5 separate regions of the Homo sapiens genome follow, and regions 2, 3, 4 and 5 are each reported to be linked to region 1. The links are microRNA targets in miRTarBase. Many come from high-throughput screens and were not tested one by one. Region 1 holds a microRNA gene; each other region holds the end of a gene's coding sequence. Distances are between the middles of the regions.

Region 1 (4,153 bases):
ACACCTATACACAACATAACCAACTGGAAAACCAAGGGCACAGAGAGTATATTGAAAGCAGAAAGACAGAAGCAGCTCATCATCTCTGAGGTATTCTTGATAAGATTAACAGCCAAATTCTTTCCAGTAACTTTATGAATATAAACTATTGTTATGAATATAGACTATCAGAATGATTCCAGCTCCATATAAAAATATTTATGGACCATGACAAAGTGGAATTTATTCCATGAATACAGGCTCAGCATACATTATCATATATCATATTAATAGAATAATGGACAAAAGCCAAACAGTCATGTCATAGATATGAAAAAGCACTTGAGAAAATTCAACACACTTTAATGATTAAAAAAACAAACAAGAAACCTGGAATAGAAGGAAACTTCCTCAGCCTGATAAAGGGCATCTATGAAAACACACTGCTAATGTCACTTTGTGGTGAAAGGCTTGAAAAAATTATCCCATCTTAGTCTGTGTTACTATTAATATAAAGGCATACCTGAGGCTGGGTAATTCATGAAGAAAAGAGGTTCATTTGTCTCACGGTTCTGCAGGCTGCACAAGAATCATGGCATTGGCATCTGCTTCTAGTGAAGGCTCCAGGCTGATTCCACTTATGGCAGAAAGTGAAGAGGAGCTGGTATATGCATATCATATGGTGAGAGAGGAAGCAAGAGAGAGACTAGAGGAGGTACCAGGCTTTTTTCAACAACCAGTTCTTGTGGGAACTAAAAGTAAGAACTCACTCTCGTGAGAATGGTACAGAGCTATTCATGAAGGATCCACCCCCACAACCCAAACACTCCTACCAGGCCCCATCTTTAACACTGGGGATCAGATTTCAACATGAGACTTGGCAGGGCCAAACAAATCATATTCAAACCATAGTACCACCTAAGATCAGGAATAAGACAAGGACGTTCACTCTTACCATTTATATTCAGTGTTGTACCAAGGGCTGCATACCCATCAGTCAGAATCCTTGTGTCATGGCATCCTCCAGGTGTCACTTTTCCAGTTGGAAACCTCTGTGGCCAGTGGTGCCTTTGCCAGAGTTTTGCTCAAGCCTGCTGGGCTTGTTCCACCCACTCGGCCTGGCAGGCTGCACTCAGCTCATGCTACTGGCCTGGCTCCCACACCTTCAAAGAATGATCCAGGCATGGAGAGGAGAGGGGTGCACAAGTAAGCAAGCATGGGGTCTGGCTGCTGCACACAGCCAAGCATTGGCTGCTGTGGTGGGGTGGGCAGTTCCAGGTGCCACCACAGGTGCTGGCTCTGTTCAAGCCTGTGGCTGGATCAGATGCACTATAAGTGGCTTCTGCTCTGGGCACTCACATCTGGACAAGGGGAACATGGTGGCACTTGGAAGCTCCAAGACACTAGAAACCACAGAGCCCCAAAGAGGGTGTCACAGCCCTGGCTGGGGGAGCCTGTGCATCTGAGCTCCCTGAAGGGCTGCAGCTCTTCTCTCCTTCTCATTGCCTGCAGTGTGACGAGTGGGGTGGAGGCAGGTGTTTTAGCTCTGTTTGTGTTATAGCACTTTCAGTCCCACCATTCAACAGGTCCTGAATTTTTGTCCTGTGTCCAGGAAGAATGAGGTATGCAGAAAACTGGAGGGTGAGCAAGGCAGAAAGGAACTTTCTTGAGCAAAAGAGTGACAGAACAGCTCTTGGGAGACCTGGAGTTGGTAGCTCCTTTCCACAGGCAGGTCATCCCAACTAGTTCAGCCCTCAGTAGAGAGGAGCCCCAGATTGGGTAGCTCCATTTCACAGGCAGGTCATCCTGACAAGTGTCCAGCTCTCTGGGGAGAGGAGACCTGGAGTGGGTAGCTCCTTTCCATAGGCAGTTAGTCCTGACGAGTGCATCCCTCAGCAGAGAGGAGACCAGAGTGGGCAGCTCCTACCTGCAGGCAGGTCATCCCAACAAGTGTCCAGCTCTCAGAAGAAAGGACACCTGGAGTGGATAGCTCCTTTCTGCAGGCAGGTAGTCCTGACGAGTGCAGCCCTCAGCAGAGAAGAGACCCAGAGAAGGTAGCTCCTAGCTGCAGGCAGGTTGTCCAGATGAGTGTCCAGCTCTCAGGGGAGAGGAAACCCAGAGTAGGTAGCTCCTTTCCACAGACAGGTTGTCCCAACAAGTGTTCAACTCTCAGCAGAAAGGAGACCCAGAGTGAGTAGCTCTTTTCCACAGGCAGGTCATACTGACAAGTAGAGGAGACCTGAAGTGGGTAGCTCCTTCCTGCAGCTGGTAGTCCTGACATCTGTATGAGTCTAGCTAGGTAACATAGTTTTTATGGGCTCAGAAAGGAAGAAGTGTGTTCTGATTGGCCCATGGGTGGCCATGGGCGGGCCTGGAAAAAGCACCATAAGTTCTCACTCCAGGCCGCAGACTCCACCTGGAGCTGACAGCCCAGCCCCCAGGCTTCATGCCATCCATGGCTTGAAGGTTGCGTTTCACTGGGAACCTGCCCCTTTCTGCCCAGGAGCCTGTCTGCCTCCTGTCACCATCAACATGTTGTCCATGCCGCCCAGGCTGTTCATGCTGAGGTTTGCCTACAGGCCCACACTGAGCCACCCTGAGCAACCCCTTGGTCTCCCTCTTGTGCTCTTCAGTTCCCAAAGTCTGGATGGCCTGAGACAGCAGGGGGCTGGCATGTCAGCACTGCCCTGAGTGCTTGGGTACCCAGCTGGGTCACAACAGTGCCTGGGCTCTGCCACAACTTTGCTCTGCCCCAGAGTGGGGGCCAGGAGCAGGGAGAGGCCAGGCAGTGGGAGCAGGCACTTTCAAGCCTACGGGAACAAAGGGCTTCCGGGGCCCCTGAGACCTCAGGGATGCCTGGGTCTGTGGCTACAGCTGAGAAGCTGCAGCTGTGCCTGGGAGCATGTGGCTCCTGCTCCACTGACTTGTTAGGGGGTGGGGCTCCCACCTGTTCCCGGCACCCGTGGGCTCAGCAGAGTGTGCAGCCCCAGTTGTGCTTCCCCTGCTGAAGCCGGCATCTTCACAGTGGCTACTCCAGACAGGCCACTGCTGCCATCACTTGCACCAACCTGTAGGTGACAGTCTTCCTCCATGAAGCCAGTTCATATGCTCTAGAAGTTACTCCTCCATGAAATATGCAAAGAAACAGCCCAAGGCTACAAGAAATACGCACACACGAAATCAAAGAAACAGGACACCACCAAAGGAACACAATAATTTTCCAATAACCAACCCCAAAGAAATGGATATCTATAAATTGCCTTCCAAACAATTAGAAATAATTGTTTTTAAAGAAGTTCAGCATGCAATAGGAGAACACAGTTGGACAACTCAGTGAAAACAGAAAAAGAGTCTACGGCCATACCACCTCGAACATGTCTGATTTCATCTGAAAACAGAGAAAGAATACATGAACAATACAAGAAGTTCAACAGGAAGGTAGAACTTATAAAAAAGAACCAGGCTGGGAGTGGTGGCTCACACCTGTAATCCTAGCACTTTGGGAGGCCAAGGTAGGCGGATTGCCTGAGCTCAGGAGTTTGAGACCAGCCTGGGCAACACAGTGAAACCCCATATCTACTAAAATACAAAAAATTAGCTGGGCATGGTGGTGTGCACCTGTAATCCCAGCTACTCAGGAGACTGAGACAGGAGAATCACTTGAACCTGGGAGGCAGAGGTTGCAGTGAGCTGAGGTCATGCCACTGCACTCCAGCCTGGGTGACAGAATGAGACTCCAACTCAAAAAAAGAAAAAAAAAAAAAAAAGAAAAAGAAAGAAATTCTGGAACCAAAAAACCTAATGACTGATATTAAAAACACAATAGAGAACTTCAAAAATAGACTTTATTGAGCAGAAGAAAGAATTTGTGCCCTTGAAGACAGGTTATTTGAAATTATCCAGTCAGAGGAGAAAAAAGAATGAAAAAGAGTGAAGAAAATTTATAGGACTTATGGGACACCATCAAGCAAACCAATATGTGCATAATGAGAGTACTAGAAGAAGAAAAGCAAGAGAAAGAGGTAAAAAGCTTTTTTAAAGAAATAATGGGTTAGGTGCAGTGGCTCATGCCTGTAATCCCAGCACTTTGGGAGGTCGAGGCAGGTGGATCACCTGAGGTCAGGAGTTAAAGACCAGCTTGGCCAACATGGTGAAACCTTGTCTCTACTTAAAC
Region 2 (4,000 bases), not on the chromosome of region 1:
ACAGTGCTTGACATATAGTAGATACCCAGTAAATATGTGGTGAGTGAAATAATTTTTCATAGAAAGTCTGGAAGGACATATACTAGTATTTTAAAATCCCCTCTGGGGTTATGAACATGGATGATGAATGTATTCTTTTTGCATAGCTGTATTTTATAATTTTCTTTATAATGATGTGTTTATGTCATGCCAATTGTATAAACATGATCTTATATATTTGTGATTTTTTTTCTCCCTCCCAGATAGGAGCATGCTGCTATGTGGAATGTTCAGCTTTAACCCAGAAGGGATTGAAGACTGTTTTTGATGAGGCTATCATAGCCATTTTAACTCCAAAGAAACACACTGTAAAAAAAAGAATAGGATCAAGATGTATAAACTGTTGTTTAATTACGTGAGAAACATCTTCAGTGGCCAAGGAAACTGTCCATTTCTCTCAGAAAGCAAATGAAATGCTACAGCTATACCCAGACCTTTTATAGGTAATGAAGCAGTTCAAAACTTGAAAGAAAACAAAACCTGTCCTCAGAATTCTATAAAGTGTATTAAGAATGTTCCTTAAAGGTTTAAGAAGCAGTAAGCAGCATCTGAAGCCACAATCTATTATAAATACTTTATTTCAACTAGAAGGTACAATCTCTCAGGGGTTTCATAGTTTAAAAAGCTACAATCACATCATGTTGTAACTACGTAAAAAACAGAGCTGTAAATGGAACTGCTTGGCTTTGACCATACACATTTCTGCCCAGCCCTTACAGAATCTGCACAAAGAAATATCTCCCTTTGCTCCAGTTAATTGTTCTTGTATGTAAGTTGCTTTCTATTCCAGTATATCCAGAGTGGTGAAATAACAAGGCCAGCCACGTAGCCAAAGGTCGCTCCAAGCGTACAGGAGATGGGCCATACCTGAGGAGAGAATGTATGAGATCAAAAAAGAACAAATGTTTTATTATTACTTGAGCACAAGTGTAACCTAAATATTTCTATATTAAAGCTTAATGTGCTTTCTTAAAGAATGCCAAAAGTGTAATAAGGTCATAACTGCATTTATCATGAACACTAAAAATGTACACATTTTAGTTAATGTGCATTAAACTGTAACAAGGCTTCTGGCAATTGTAGATTTAGTTTGACGCTCCCCAAAGTGCATGAGACACATGCTAAAATTACAAATTAAAATTTTGGGTCAGACTTTGCCATAATGATAGACTCAATTTAGCTCTCTGAACTAGTTGGTAATTTTTTTTTTTTAATTCCCACTTTGGCTGTGTACATCAAATGAAATGAGAAGTGTGTATGCTGACCAAACCACAAGAAACTTTCTTTAAGTTGTGTTAAAGAGGAAAGACCTAGAATCCAAGCGTGTTACATGAAAATTGTAACAGAGCAGCTGCTTCCACCTTTCAGATATAGATGTTGGAACCACAGCAGAAGTTATAGAGCGACAACTTATATACACACCTAGAATGTAAGTTAAACAAAATACCGGCTTCCAGAGACCCCTTTTCTCCAGCCATATTACATCAGGCTAGAAGTAATTAATGTTGATTTATTTCATCTACAAGCAGTTGGTCCCTAAGTGAAAGGCTCTGCTTGAAAAAAAAAAGAAAAAAAAGTTGGAGGAAAATTTTCATGTTCTTCTGTGAAGCTTATTTGGTACACTGGAGCCATTTCTAATCTTTCTCTGGGGGGAACAGGCCACAGAACTGTGTTAGAGGTGAACCATCTTAATTACTAGTTCTATTACCTAATTCAGCTTCCTTGTTTGGTCTGCTGTGGATCTGCCTTATTGCATATGCCATGCATCAGATAATGGATGCATCAGATAATGGTGTTAGACAAAGCTTCATTGTGAACAACCTAATGCATTTTAGAGAAACAATCTCATCACATTTTTTCTAGCCTTTCCTACATTTAAACTTGCTGTTGCCCAAATTATAATTTTTTAAATGTCTTTGGTGGGCTTCTGTTAATTCACATGACTTGAGCTTATAGCTATGTCTACTGCACAGATTGGGTAATGGAACACTAAACTTTTATACTTGAAAATGACAGCCTTAAATGCTCATATCAGTCACAAATCTAGGATGTACTGTCTTGTTGTATGTGAGCTTTGTAGAGATTTTTAAAAATATAAGCATCACCTTCCCATTGAAGAGTGGAGAGAGTCTACTGGATGACTGGCCAGGAACTTTCTCTCTGAATCGGACATTTGGATGTCTTCTTTCTTCCAAGAAATGGTGGTTCACATTAAAGTATCATGGCCTTATGTATGCTCAAATGGAATCTTATGTAACTTTCTTATTTAATTTTGGTCTGCTTATTTTTAGATAAAATTGAAAGGAATTGTATAAATCAATTAACATATTAGCTGAGTTGTCCAACACATGGTATAAACGAATTACAACAGTAAACTATTACACATTTCCAACTTGCCTTTGGGGATTTATGAGGATTTTTTTTGGTGGGGGGAGGGGGCTCCAATTCATATCTCTGAAACCCTTCACACTTGGTTTACTAATTCAAAGTTAGAAGTCTAGAATTTGCCCTGCCCTAACAGAAACAGATTAGGAATTTGTCTACACAAACTGGTGTCACCTGTTTCTTGACTGGGATTTGGTTTCCTCATTATAAATATGGGAGGTAGAACAGAGATCTCCAACGTCTCTCCCATTTATCACAGTAATTTTCTTATTCACAGTAATCATTGTTGGATGTTACCTTTTCAGCTTCACATTCTCAAGATGGTAAAAATCATGTATATAGATTATCAGAACTCTAAGCAAAGATGACTGTCACATCTGAAGCTGAGGTGCCTTAGGTACTCTACTGACCTTGATGGGTTTGGAGTTCCCCATTGCTTATCAAGAGCTTTTTAATTGCTTTGGTTCTTTAGTTTTTCTTTTTGCAAAAATCCTTCCTGTCACTTTAACTAAAAACCAAAGATTTGTTTTCTATTGATAAGCAGACTAGAGAAAAACTGCCTTATTTTCAGAAGCATGTCTTCATTCAAAGCTTAGGCTTCAATAGAAATTCAGACTAATCACTGAAATGACTATTTCAAACTAGTGAAATATCTGGGAAATAAACTGCTTCAAAAATATTTTACTGACATGAATTTTGCTAGTGAATACAAATACACTGCCTCAAATAAGGCCATGTATGAATGAACTTACAAGATATTTGAGTTAATCAGTGTTTGCATATAGAGAATTAGTTCTAAAGTTCTTAAAAATAAATTTAGGGGCTCCCTGAAATTTTATTTAATACTTTGCTAACTTACACTCTTGTTTTATCTCCACAGGTACATTTTAGGTTAGCTCATGGTGAATTCTATTTACAATAAGTGGAGCTTGGATTAATGGGTTTTGTTATGAATTATCTTAGTGACTTTAGACACTGTTTCCATTTGATTTTTAACTATTTAAAATACCAAATTAAATACCAGTTTGTTGGTTGTTACTTTTAAATGATTGTTACTTTAACAGTGTCCCTTCTTAACACATGGGGTTACAAATAAAATACTATGCATAGTTTACTATCTACGTAAAGCACTGAACTTTTTACCTTAGTAGTTTTTATTTATTACCCTATGTAAACATTTAGGATAATACTCTTTCCTCTATTTATGCTGAGAGTCTACTAATCATTGGCAAAGTATGAGTCCCTATACTCTGTTAAAAAAAGCTCACTGTTAAAGTATAGGGAGAATAGTAATCCCTCATGAATCCCAGCTAGATTCCAATTTGGGTTACTAAATTGTATTTTAATCATTTTGTAATTTCAGTATGGCTCTTTGTTCTCAAACACATACATACCACCACGCACATTCTTTTAAACAGCTGCCACACCTCACCTCCAACAGAATGCCAAAAATGAAATGTTAAAAAATTTTGTCTAATGAAGGGTTACGGCTTGGAACACTTGGTTATTCATGTTATGTAAATCAAGAAGTGCATGCCATCAGCAAATTAAAATGTGGACTGGCTTTGAAGACTGT
Region 3 (4,000 bases), 160 Mb from region 1:
AGGCAGAGGTGGAAGGATCACCTGAACCCAGGGAGGTCAAGGCTGCAGTGAGCTGTAATTGCGCCACTGGACTGCAGCCTGGGTGACAGAGTAAGACCCTATCTCAAAAAAAAGAGTATTCCAGATAGACATATAGCACAAGCTCAGACAAATATCAGATAGCTTGGGGTGGTGTTGCTAAATGCAAAGTAGAAATGTCAGGAGGTGAGGCCGGAAAGGTACAAGTGGCATGGAGGGCCTTGTATGGCACTCCATGAGGCTGGGCTTTTTCCTATGGGCTATGAAGCCACAGTGTGGGTGGGGTGGGAGTCATATTCAGATTTTCATTTGAGACGGATCATCAGGTGACACTGTAGAGGTTGGATTTCAAAGAGGCACAACTAAAAATAGGAAGAATAGTTGTAAGTTAAAAAATAATGTAGGCCTGAAACAGGACAGTAGTACTGAGGAGGGGTAAGTAGTAGGAATACTTTTAAAGAAATTATTTGGAGATCAAATTGGCAGTGCAGGGTGGGTTACTGGATAGGGAAGATGAGGGAGGAATCTAAAATAGTGTCCAAACTTTTGGCTCGGACAATGATGTCATTTAGGTAGAAAAAATTGAGGAGTAATAGGTTGGCAGTAGTGGGGAAGGTAGGAAGATTTCCAGTTCCGTATGGTGAAGTGGTTCTTAAAGTCCCTATGGGATTCCTGAATTTAGATGTTCAGCAGGTACTCAGATCAGCTTATGGCAAAGGCCAGGGTCAGAGATACAGACTTGAGGAGAGAGCAGCATGGGGGTGAGAGTGTGTTCAGAAGGGCTGTGGGAGTGCTCTGGGAGTGGCTGCTGTTCCGAGGCTGGCATTTGGCCCTGTTGACATTCTTTTCTCTTCCCACCTTCCTTGGTGTTTCTCTTACCTCTGATCATTCCTTCTCCAAATGCTTTACAGGCTCGTCTTCCTCTTCCCATAGAATGTGTTATTCCTGTGTGATTTCACCACCTGGGACCCCTACTGTGCCTCCATCAAACCTTTATCTCCAGCTCAGAATTCTTATATAAGATTGAGACGTATGTCTCCAACTGCTTTCTAAGAGAAAAGAGGTAGTCAGTAGCGTGGACTGATTATCCAGGGACCACACAAAGGGTTTGTACTTCACTGTCCTATTGTATTCAGGACTGGCACTGTGAATTGATCCTGGCTGTGACTATCTCTTGTTTTCTCTGAAAATACCAAATGTGGAAATCAGGAGTCAGATTTCAGACTTGTTAATAAGCATTATTAACACACACACCCCCACTATAATCCTTCTGTAACTTATTAACTTCCCCTTTATGCTTAGTGTATTGTTATCTTTTCATCAGGAACCAAAATTAACCCAAAATGGAAATAAAAATTTAAATCTTATTGATACAGAAGAAAAATTACTGTCCTGTTCATAAAAAAAGGAAAAATAGTTTACATGGATCCACCTTGTTTAAAACAAAAATCACAACTCGTTTTGTGAAAAAGAGGTGCTTTTTACTCTAGTATTCCTTGTTCTGGGATCACTTAATCACTATTTCGATGATGAAGGAACTCTGAACTCCTAAGCAAACCATGCCATGACATACTTTATATATATGCACAAAAGTTGGATAAAACACAAAACCAGCATTTTGACAAATTCACTTTAAAATGTTTTCCACATCAACTACTTAAAAGAAGTTACAGCAATATGATCTTCCACTGCTCAGGAAGACAGAGTGAACTTGGATATGATGAATATTAAAAACAAACATACAGAGCACCTGGGTCTGGACTTGTGGGCTAAAGAAATGCTTCCTGAATTTGTCCGAGGTGATGTGTTGAGCAACCGTGCCACAGTTCACCAGCAGTGACACTCTAGTTCTTCAGTATATTCCTGTTGTGAACCTATTTCTTTGAATTTAATCATCTGGGATGATTGCTGCAGTGTGAGTCTTTAGCATTTTGAAAATCCCACAGAAGAGATTAAGAAGGTTCCTCTTCCCAGAAGACACTCATATAAAGCATGCTTCTATAGGGTTAACTGTTCAGAAATTGTAAGGTGCATGGTCATCACCAGGTAAGCAGCTCTACAGGGGCCCATGGCCCATACTCATCCTTGCGTGCCCAGGGGAGCCAGCGTGCATATGAGCAGTAGGGAAGTGGCATAACAACGCAGAAGGGCTCAGGACAACTTGGCATTTTTGTTGTTGTTAAACTCAGGCTTATCAAGAGTCATAAGGACTCATCTCAGTTTGTATATACACCTTCAGACCCATACAGATAGATGCATAAGAATATGATCATTTCTGTTCTTCACAGAGTACTCAGAATTCTGACAAGAAACATCACAAGTTTATATAAATGCCCATTTGCATAGCAGCTTACAAATTCAATAGTTGTCAGAGGCTTGACGCGGTGGGTCATGCCTGTAATCTCAGCACTTTGGGAGGCCGAGGCGGGCAGATCACTTGAGGTCAGGAGTTTGAGATCAGCTTGGCCAACATGGCAAAACTCCGTCTCTACTAAAAATACAAAAATTACCTGGGTGTGGTGACGGGCGCCTGTAATCCCAGCTACTCAGGAGGCTGAGGCAGGAGAATCACTTGAATTCGGGAGGCAGAGTTTGCAGTGAGCTGAGATCATGCCACTGTACTCCAGCCTGGGTGACAATGAAACTCTGTCTCAAAAAAAAAGTTATCAGAGAATAGTAGATACTGTTTTAGCCATCAGTTTTCGCTGAGAGTACTTCTGACACCCATAGGAAATTGTAAAGGTTTTCTCCTCAAGTTGTAAATTCCTTTTATCCATTTATGACATTTTCTCTATCATATACTAAATTCTATCCATCCTCACATTGATTTATTACTGTCACCAAAATACATTCGAACTGTTTGTATACACACATATATAGGTGTATATGTATGTGTGTGTGTATATATATATTTATTTGGTTGAATCTTATGAAACTGCTAATTTTTTACCATTTTTGACCTATGAAAATAGTTTTTTTCATAGGGTTGAACCTAACAAAATCTGAACTTTAGCTAGCTGGCTATATCTCATATACTATGCAGTACTTTCTGCTTTACTTCAGCAGGAAGAATGAAAATGCTTACCCCATTCACCAGTTCTTATGCAGCCTTGCAAAACTGTGCTTGCAAACTGCTGGTGAATTTCATGAAAATACTTAGAGGTATAGTAATTTTCATATATTTAGCATTTAACTGAAAAAAAGGTCCAAACTGAGCATATTATCTTTGTAACTACATCACCCACTACTTAACTGGAACAGCCTACCTTATAAAGATGGCTTTTGCAGACTTAAGGCCAGGTCTAGAATCAATAGGCCAAACAATAAAATATCAAAACATTTTCAACTGGGATTCTGCTACCTCTGTGTCCTCCATAACACTCAATATTTAGAGTGCCCGAGACACTGCGCTAAGCACCAGTAAAAGAGAAACGCCCCAAAAACTTCAAGAAACTTACCATCTTTCAAGAAATATAAAAATATAAATAATAAGAGAATATTCTAAGAGTTTTAAGTTTCAAACTGGGACAGAGTAAAATGTAAAAAGACAGCACTTCAGAAGTTTTAAACTGACTTCAAACGTTAAGGAAAAAGGCAAATACAAATGTGCTTTGAGTCTAAATCCAGGTCAATATGATAATCAAATGTGCTCTCCTCCACAGTTCTGGCCCCAAGAAGTCCTCTTATCACCCCATAACAGTGACTAGAGATCCTCCAGGTCAGTTAAGTCCACGGCCACTTTCAAGAACAGAGTGTCATCTTTAATGTAGGCGTTCTTGGCATTCTCCAAAACAGAATGAGCCACAAAGCGGGGACAGCCAGATGCAATGTTCATCTCCCCATCAGGTCTTTTAAAGCTGCTGCTATTGGGGTCAGGTTTGAAGGTCTCCATAATGTTCTTTTTGCCACTCTGGTCCAGAAGCATCAGGGTCACCCTCTGCCTGAATGGCCACTGCAACAGTGAGTCAAACTCTCCTCGCAT
Region 4 (4,000 bases), not on the chromosome of region 1:
TTTGTTTGTTTGTTTGTTTGTTTGTTTTTAAAGAGATAGAGTCTTGCTGTGTTGCCCAGGCTGGACTCAAACTCCTGGGCTCAAGCAATCTACCCACCTCAGCCTCCCGAGTAGCTAGGACTACAGGTGTGAGCCACCATGTCCAGCTAAGAGTGAAGTTTTATGTTATTTATTAATAAATTTATACTCAGAAGAAGAAAGGAAGTATATTTCATTTTCTTTCAAGATACCTAGGATATATATAGTCCCTATCTTTTATTGATGTTCCTTAGCTCTGTATCTGTGAGCAGTGAAGTACTAGCCAGTCAGCAAAGGTGCCATCTCTAATAGCTGTTTTTCTCCTTCTTTTAACATTTGATAACTGATTATTTTTCTTCTTTTAGATGAACGACTTTCGAAGTAAAATGCAATCAATATTTCCAACAATTCCCAAGAACTCCGAATCGGCTGTTGAGTGGGAGGAAACATTGAAATCCAAATGAGATGAGCATGGATGAATTTCAAAATGCTTGTTACAGAAAGGGGTGGCTCTGGAGACACCATGACAGCAAAAGGACTGGGACTGATTTCTCCCAGGAACATGGGCAGATTGCTGACTGAACCAGTGCACTGGATAGCATTCAGCCTCATCACAGGAGAGTATGTGTGTGCGTGCTGGGGGAGGGTAAAGTTTTCCCACAGTTAAGAAGACTATTTAAAAATAGTAATTACAGGAATAACTTCCTTATGTGGAGGGGACCCCATAGGAAATGATTCTGTTTGTAACAGTTGAAGCAAATTTCATACTAAAAAAGTTTATAATAAAAGTATGATAAGAAAATATTTATAAAACAGACCCCCTAATAGCAATAGTACTGCAATGTGTCTAATTAAAGGAGTTTCAAGAGCCTTTCTTGTCAATATATGACAGAACTTGGAAGTCTTATTCTGATTAGCCAGACTACAAAGTGACAGTCACCTGGTAAGTCCTGTATGGTAGGAAGTGGGTGTGGCTCTCGGGTCCTAAATGTGGTCTGTGCTTTACAGCCATCACACACATGCTAGTTATTTACCTGATGCCCTTGCTTGAAGGCCCTATAAATTCTTATACTTAAAACAAAAAGCCAGTAATGAGTTGTGATCACCCCAAAAGGCACAGTTGGGCTAAAATAATGATGATATCAGGGGTAAACATATTTTTTTGAGAAGTTGGTCTGGATCTCTGAACACTGACAATTTGTCATTTTGTCTCAGTTGTCAAAGTAAAAAAAGCCCAGTTGTCATCCGTCTTCAATATTTTTAACCAGAAAGTCACCTGAGTACGGAGTCCCAATATAAAGTATTTGGGACCACCTCCCTAACAAAGCTGTTAGGGTAAATTCTGTGTGCACGCCCAACTCCCTCCTGTCTTCCACAGTCTCCTACAAAAAAAACAGATGGAGAATAATGTCTACATGCAATTGTTTTTACTGCAATTGTATTTTAAAATATTTTCAAGAAGAGAAATACTTTAATATGTCAATATGTCCAGAGAAAAAACCTGTAGTTAAATATCAGTTGTGCAATTTCTTCCTACTTGCCTAGGCTCTAATTAGTCAGCAATCAGGTTTAATAAAGGACATTTGAAATTTCTGTTATCATGAAACCTTTTATTCTAAGGGAGATTTTTAAATGAAATGACAAGAACTTAATGTAATACTTTTCTCTAGACCATGTTACCCTGTTAAAATTGCTGTATTGTTAATGAAACAGGTGTAATCAGCATCTGGAATTCATATGTAATCTGTTAAAAATCCAAGACTGAAAGGAAAGGATTGTGAAATTGGTCAGTGAATGCGGGTAGCAAAAACTCTTCACTGCCTTTCATTTGTAACTAAATCTCCTCTGAGAAGAGATCTGTAGGCTTTGAATGAAAGGAAGGAAAGGCAGGAGCCAAAGGAACAGGTTTTCGTCCATACAATTAGTCTGAATCTAGGTTCCTCTGAATAGAATGGGCACCGCCTGATCCTTTTGTGCTTCATAAATGTGGGTTTCCAACGTGCATGAGATGGCCCTCAAACCTTGTTACAACGATGCACTTTACTCGTTTGATGTGGGGGGAAAAAGAATGGGCACTACCTAAAACTGTTTACAGCTAGAATCTGGGTTTTATTTTTCATAGATGGAGAATGCCTAGTGGTTTCTAAAGGCCTCCACTGGGTGGAGAAAGGAGACTTGCCCACCTGTCTGGAGTGTTAAAAGGAGAAATCATTGTTAACTGATTCTGTTAATGGATTCCTGCCTTGTAACCTCCCGAAGGGCAGGGACCCCTCTCAGGGCCTTGTAAACTGGTGTCAGCACCGCTGCAGAGGCTGCTGCACATCAGGCTGATGGCAGCTAGGCCCTAGGAAGGAGCCAGGGGCCATGGTGGGGGCTCTGCTTTCCCACAGGGCTGGCACAGAGGAGGCCTAGACATATGTTGCTGAAAGAGTGTCCTAATACTAGAGTGGCATGCCTCGTGTCTACAAAACCCTTATATGTCACCTCTGCTGTCCTTGACCGATGGCAGGGGAACTCCCATTAGAATGATGATGAATCCCCTGCAGAGGGGAGGCTGGCAGGGACAAATTCCCTAAAAGAGGGACCAAGCGTCAGCTCCAATTGCATCTTAAAAGCAAAGGTGAAGTAATGCACAGATGGAAATTTAAAAAGAAAACAAGCAGTATGACTCAAGTGGTGTTTTTCACAGTCAGAACTTGAATATCAGTAGATTTCGTCATTTGTCTATTCCTTTTGTACCAGAGGCATATTGTTAAATTGGTTAATGGAAAGGAAAAATGTTGAACAGATAATGTTATTCTTTATGAGACGTACCATCTGTGTATTGAGCTCTGAATGTCCCTGGATATGGAAGAGAGGAAATGTGATGGAATTTCAAGTTTGCCTTCTTTGCTGTCTTTATCTTGGGTTGAGTATGACAAACATAATCACATTTATCTCCTGGAGCATAAAGAGTTTTAATCACCCTATTAACCAGGATGACATTTTTCACAGACTTAAAAAGGAATAGAACAGACATTATCTCCCTATAAGCAATCCATTTCATGGAGGCTGAGCACTAGAAATGCTTTAAAGGATGGATAACGCAGGCCATTTCCATTTCCTGTCTAAGCCAACATTAAGGAGGCTTTCGGTAAGGCTGTTGCTTCCACTGGGTGAGTGTTAAGCTTTACACTTAGAGTCTCAGCGCCCAAAAGAGCTATTAGAGAAAGCACGGGCAGGGAGGAGTGGCTTCCGAGACCCCAGGATTCATTCAAGGGAAAACATGTATCCTGGTAAGTTGCTGCTGCCCTGTGAAAAGGAGTCCATAGGCTGCTGTTATATTCAGAGTCAAGAAAGTGTGGGTTCAGGACAACCTGAGAGTGGAAAGTGGGGGACGGGAGCTGCCTCCGAAGACGCCCGGCAGCCCATCACCAGGAGGACCATGGCCCAAGGGCATGGAAGCATGTGGCTGCTGAGAGGGTCGTGGGCCATCTCCACCACCACCCTCGCGTCAGGGCATGGGCCCAGGCTGGCGTTAAGGGCACTTTGCCTGCTTAGTCAAAAGGTGGCATCGAATCACCTGGGCTGTCACATGTTTTGTTTAGTTTCATGGATAGTATGGGACCAAACTTGCAAATTAATCATTGCAATCTAAGGGGAAAATAGAAGAAATTAAGGTGGGGGTGGGGGGACGGGGAGCCCATGGGGATAAAAGTAATTAAAATCCATTGAATTTAGCTATTTCACTTGGGGCAACATTTAATCTCCAAGATTAAATCTTGGTTTATGGGGAAGGTTATATATTTTCATCTCATTTTTATGTATCATCTTTAAGACAAATTGTTAAGTACAAATGAAAATCAGGTAACATACAAAGGCATTTCATCAAATAGTTAAATTTCCTATGAAAGTTAGTAAAATACATATTTTTATAATACCATGTTCAAGTGAAGTGTTTTTGCTTTCTGCCAAGAGTCATTAAATGATATAGCAAGTATTT
Region 5 (4,000 bases), not on the chromosome of region 1:
GCCATTGCATTCCACCCTGGGTGACAGAGAGGGAAGGGAAGGGAAAGGAAAAGGGAGAGGGAAAGGGAAAGGGAAAGGGAAGGGGAAGGAGATGGAGGGGAAGGGGAAGGGGAAGGGGAAGGAGATGGAGGGGAAGGGGAAGGAGATGGAGGGGAAGGGGAAGGGGAAGGGGAAGGGGAAAAGAAAGAAAACAGAACTCATACTGTCAAGAAACCTTATAAAAGTAAGAAATGTAATCAAGCTCTCATCCTTAGATGTTTAGTTCCAAGAACCAACTCTCATACAGCCTTTCTCAGTTGAGTTTCTATCACTTACAACTGAAAGAATTCCAGCAATGGGCTATAACACAACTATCAAAAGAATAAGGTGGATTTGTATGTACAGACATATTTTTCTGCAATATATTAAGGGAAAATAGCAATAGCAATTCTCAGAGCATTGATATATTACACCTGTTTTGTTTTTAAAATATATATTTTTTTCTATTAATAGTGAGAACTAAAAAAAGAGGAGAATGTTCACCACATATAAGACTTTAAAACATATACATATATATATTTAATCACAGAATAAAACAAAATGTTATAAAATTAAATGCTATGCATAAATTTTGCATCAAAGGCCAATTATCAAAATTTATTTCAACTTAATTTCCATAGAAGCCTGTGGAATGTACTTCCTAGAAAGGAATAAGAATAAAAACAGCAAACTGAATTACAAAGAAACATGAACGACACGGTTCTTATGAGCTCATCAGTGTTCTATTGAACTTTCTTCAATCTCCCTCTGAAAAGCAAAATCCAGAAAATGATTATTTCACCATCCTTCTGTAACTCCAGAAAAGTGAAGTGTATATACACTTGAGATCAAATGATCTCTGGGCAGTTTTTAAAAATATATTCGTGTTAATATCTATGGTGCAATAATACAACAAGAAACTGAAGAAGGGAAATACATCTAAAGAAGCTAAAATAAAATACTCAAATCAGCAAAATAGAATTTTGCTACCTGCCATAAATTCAAGGTCACACTAAGAGTGGACCATAAGGACAGGACACACAATTAGTCAACACAGAAGGCTATCCTTTCTCCACATCAGTGTTTTCATCTCAAATATCAAACCCATACCCCTCTAGGGCACTCCCTAAATTCCCTATGCTATACCATTTGAGATGTTTAACTCTCCATGATTGAGGCAAAATGTACTGCATATAACTTAAATAAGAACAAAGTAGGCCTACTCATTATAATGAATCATGTGAATAAAAATTAATATAAGCTTAGATTTAAGCTAAAATAGACATGAAATCTGAAAAACTCCATGTTATAAAAAGAAACAAGGAAGGTATAAATGTTACTAACTTATCTACAAAATCTAAACCAAGATAAAGTAGAAATTCAATTGAAAAATCAATGTGATTTGGGAGGCTGAGGTGGGTGGATCACTTGAGGTCAGGAGTTTGAGAACAGCCTGGGCAACATGGTGAAACCCCATATCTACTAAAAATACAAAAAAAAGGCCAGGCACGTGGCTCATGCCTGTAATCCCAGCACTTTGGGAGGCCAAGGTGGGTGGATCACTTGAGGTCAGGAGTTTGAGACCAGCCTGGCCAACATGGTTAAACCCTGTCTCTACTAAAAATACAAAAATTAGCCAGGCATGGTGGCTGTCATACCAGCTACTTGGGAGGCTGAGGCATGAGAATCACTTGAACCCAGGAGACTGAGGTTGCAATGAGCCGAGATCATGCCACTGCACTCCAGCCTGGGTGACAAAGTGAAGCTCCATCTCAAAAACAAAACAAAATAAAATAAAAATAAAATAAATACAAAAAAAAAATTAGCTGGGCATGGTGGCGGGCACCTATAATCCCAGCTACTCAGGCGACTGAGGCAGGAGAATTGCTTGAATTCAGGAGGTGGAGGTTACAGTAAGCCGAGATAGTGCCACTGCACTCCAGCCTGGGTGACAGAGCAAGACTCCATCTCAAAAAAAAAAAAAAAGTGATTTTTTTTTAAGTTGAATAAATGGTTTTTATCTTAAGGCATCACATCTAGAGGCAAAAATTAAAAAAAAGAATAAAAGGTTTTAATATCAACATTTGGCTGAAACTGATGCAGAAATGAACATTACTTTTTAAACCTCCTTGCAACAAGATTTTTTAAAAGTAAAAATACCTTTCAATGATCAAATAATAAATCTAACATAAATCCTACATTTAGTAGCATCCAAAAAATAAGAATTATTTTTTACTCAAATTTAAAAAACAAACATAACCACACTTAATGGGAAAAAATGTAATACTCTTTCTAAAGCATGAAAACAGATACCAAAATACCATGTATTCTTAAATGACCACATATGCTACACTGACACTATGGCCCACAGTGAGTTTGAAAAGATATAACAAGATTCAATTTTGTTATTTCATCACTATAATTTTAATCATTAGGCATATTAATGTCACATACAGTTTTTAAAATATAAATATTTTTAAAGCTGTTTTACAATATGATAACAAGAACACCCAGCAGATACAGGTTGTACAGTTAATCATTTTGACTGTGTCAGTAATATAATCAGAATACTGTAACGGTAAGAGAAAAATACTTTTTTTTTTTTTTGAGACTGGGTCTCGCTCTGTCGCCCAAGCTGGAATGCAGTGGCGCAATCACACCTCACTGCAGCCTCAACCTCCTGGGCTCAAGGATCCTCTAGCCTCAGCCTCCTGAGTAGCTGGAACTACATGCATGCACCACCACACTCAGCTAATTTTTTTTAAATTTATTTTTAGTAGAGACAGGGTCTCACTATGTTGCCTAGGCTAGTCTTGAACTCCTGGGCTCAAGTGATCCTCCTGCCTCAGCCTCCCAAAGTGCTGCGATTACAAGCGTGAGCCACCGCCTGGCCCGAAAAATACCTTGTTTTTAATCATTCCCATTCAGCAATAGTGAAAATGCTCTATGTACAACATTGGCTCTGAATAACACATTTCATTTCTGCTTCAAACCTCCTATGCTGTCTATCGCTGTTTTGACGACTGCATAGCTCAACAGAAAAATGCGTCCCATTGACGTCTCAATAATAAGTCTGATTAGGCAGATAAATTCCCAATCATAAAAGCTTTTATTTTAAGACAAGTATTATGCAAATACAGGATGGAAATCAGACTCACTGTAATTGGGATGAAAAGGCAACTCTAAGAAGAATGCTGTACATATGACACCTATTGCATTTTTATGCACTAGTCTTGCATTCCCTTCCTTACTTCCTCGTCTTTGAAGTGCTAAAGGTAATTACACTAAAAAGTTACTACCAGGCTTAATATGAGAGAACCATGTGTATAAGAAAGCAAGACTTTCAGATAAGCAATCTCCAAATATTTTCTATTTTATATGCATTTATGATTTTTCTTATAAAGAGGGAGTGTTTTATGTGCAACACCTGCAAATGGAAATAAATCTACCTTTCACTCAAGCCCAAATAATCAAATATAAAATACAGACAATACAGCAAACTACAATGGCAGCAGTGATTCTTAGGGCAGCATGTGCAAAATCCAGTATTTTGCTATCTACTTACATCACTGTAGTCAGAAAAGAAATGTGCCAAAACTACCTTTCCCATTCCACTTGAACTGGTTCCCCACAATCCCAACAAACATCTCCTGTGACATTAAGTTGTCATCAGCTTGCGTGATCCCCAGTTCACTCAACCTTTTCTTCTTTATCTGGCCTTTCTGTGTGGAGGCAGCAATTAGTTCATTTACAATTTCACAATTTCCCTCGACTTGCTCAGAAGGGTCAGTTCTTGCACAAAGCTCCATTTTACCAGTTGCACACTCAATCAGCTCTTCTAGATCCACTCTTTCAGCCACATCTGGCTCTCCACTTGTCTGAATTTTAAGCGCTTTATTTTCTGGAGAAACAAACAAATAATAACAAAGTTAAATATACAAGCTAACCCAACAAAAACATATATTTCTACACAGTCTTCTCA

What was found. The annotated mature microRNA hsa-miR-6500-3p reads ACACUUGUUGGGAUGACCUGC and lies in region 1 at 1,913-1,933, opposite strand. An mRNA with a match to its seed (bases 2 to 7 or 8) in the 3' UTR can be bound and repressed. Matches are read on the target gene's strand: a 7mer-m8 pairs with bases 2 to 8, a 7mer-A1 pairs with bases 2 to 7 and ends in A, and an 8mer does both.
Region 2: miRTarBase lists RHOQ as a target of hsa-miR-6500-3p. Seed matches in the 3' UTR shown: 7mer-m8 at 963-969.
Region 3: the mRNA of TRAF5 is a reported target of hsa-miR-6500-3p. Seed matches in the 3' UTR shown: 7mer-A1 at 2,587-2,593 and 7mer-A1 at 2,452-2,458.
Region 4: the mRNA of TMEM242 is a reported target of hsa-miR-6500-3p. Seed matches in the 3' UTR shown: 7mer-A1 at 3,945-3,951.
Region 5: miRTarBase lists SHCBP1 as a target of hsa-miR-6500-3p. Seed matches in the 3' UTR shown: 7mer-A1 at 1,706-1,712, 7mer-A1 at 1,578-1,584 and 7mer-A1 at 1,443-1,449.

Annotation. Positions count from the first base shown.
Region 1 is chr1:51,057,852-51,062,004 of GRCh38, reverse strand. MIR6500 (microRNA 6500) reads right to left here and starts at 1,987; the gene lies at 1,902-1,987. It overlaps MIR4421 (microRNA 4421), which reads right to left and starts at 2,168; the gene lies at 2,100-2,168.
Region 2 is chr2:46,580,686-46,584,685 of GRCh38, forward strand. RHOQ (ras homolog family member Q) reads left to right here. Exons shown (of 5, transcript NM_012249.4): 5 at 243-4,000. The coding sequence ends at 398. PIGF (phosphatidylinositol glycan anchor biosynthesis class F) reads right to left here. Exons shown (of 6, transcript NM_002643.4): 6 at 252-906. The coding sequence ends at 793. Among named protein-coding and RNA genes, the nearest start is that of RHOQ-AS1, 2.4 kb to the left of the region's middle.
Region 3 is chr1:211,372,424-211,376,423 of GRCh38, reverse strand. TRAF5 (TNF receptor associated factor 5) reads right to left here. Exons shown (of 11, transcript NM_001033910.3): 11 at 1,478-4,000. The coding sequence ends at 3,722. Among named protein-coding and RNA genes, the nearest start is that of LINC00467, 8.3 kb to the left of the region's middle.
Region 4 is chr6:157,289,383-157,293,382 of GRCh38, reverse strand. TMEM242 (transmembrane protein 242) reads left to right here. Exons shown (of 4, transcript NM_018452.6): 4 at 384-4,000. The coding sequence ends at 482. It also overlaps the pseudogene LOC124901551. Among named protein-coding and RNA genes, the nearest start is that of TMEM242, 32 kb to the left of the region's middle.
Region 5 is chr16:46,578,136-46,582,135 of GRCh38, forward strand. SHCBP1 (SHC binding and spindle associated 1) reads right to left here. Exons shown (of 13, transcript NM_024745.5): 13 at 456-3,919. The coding sequence ends at 3,594. Among named protein-coding and RNA genes, the nearest start is that of SHCBP1, 41 kb to the right of the region's middle.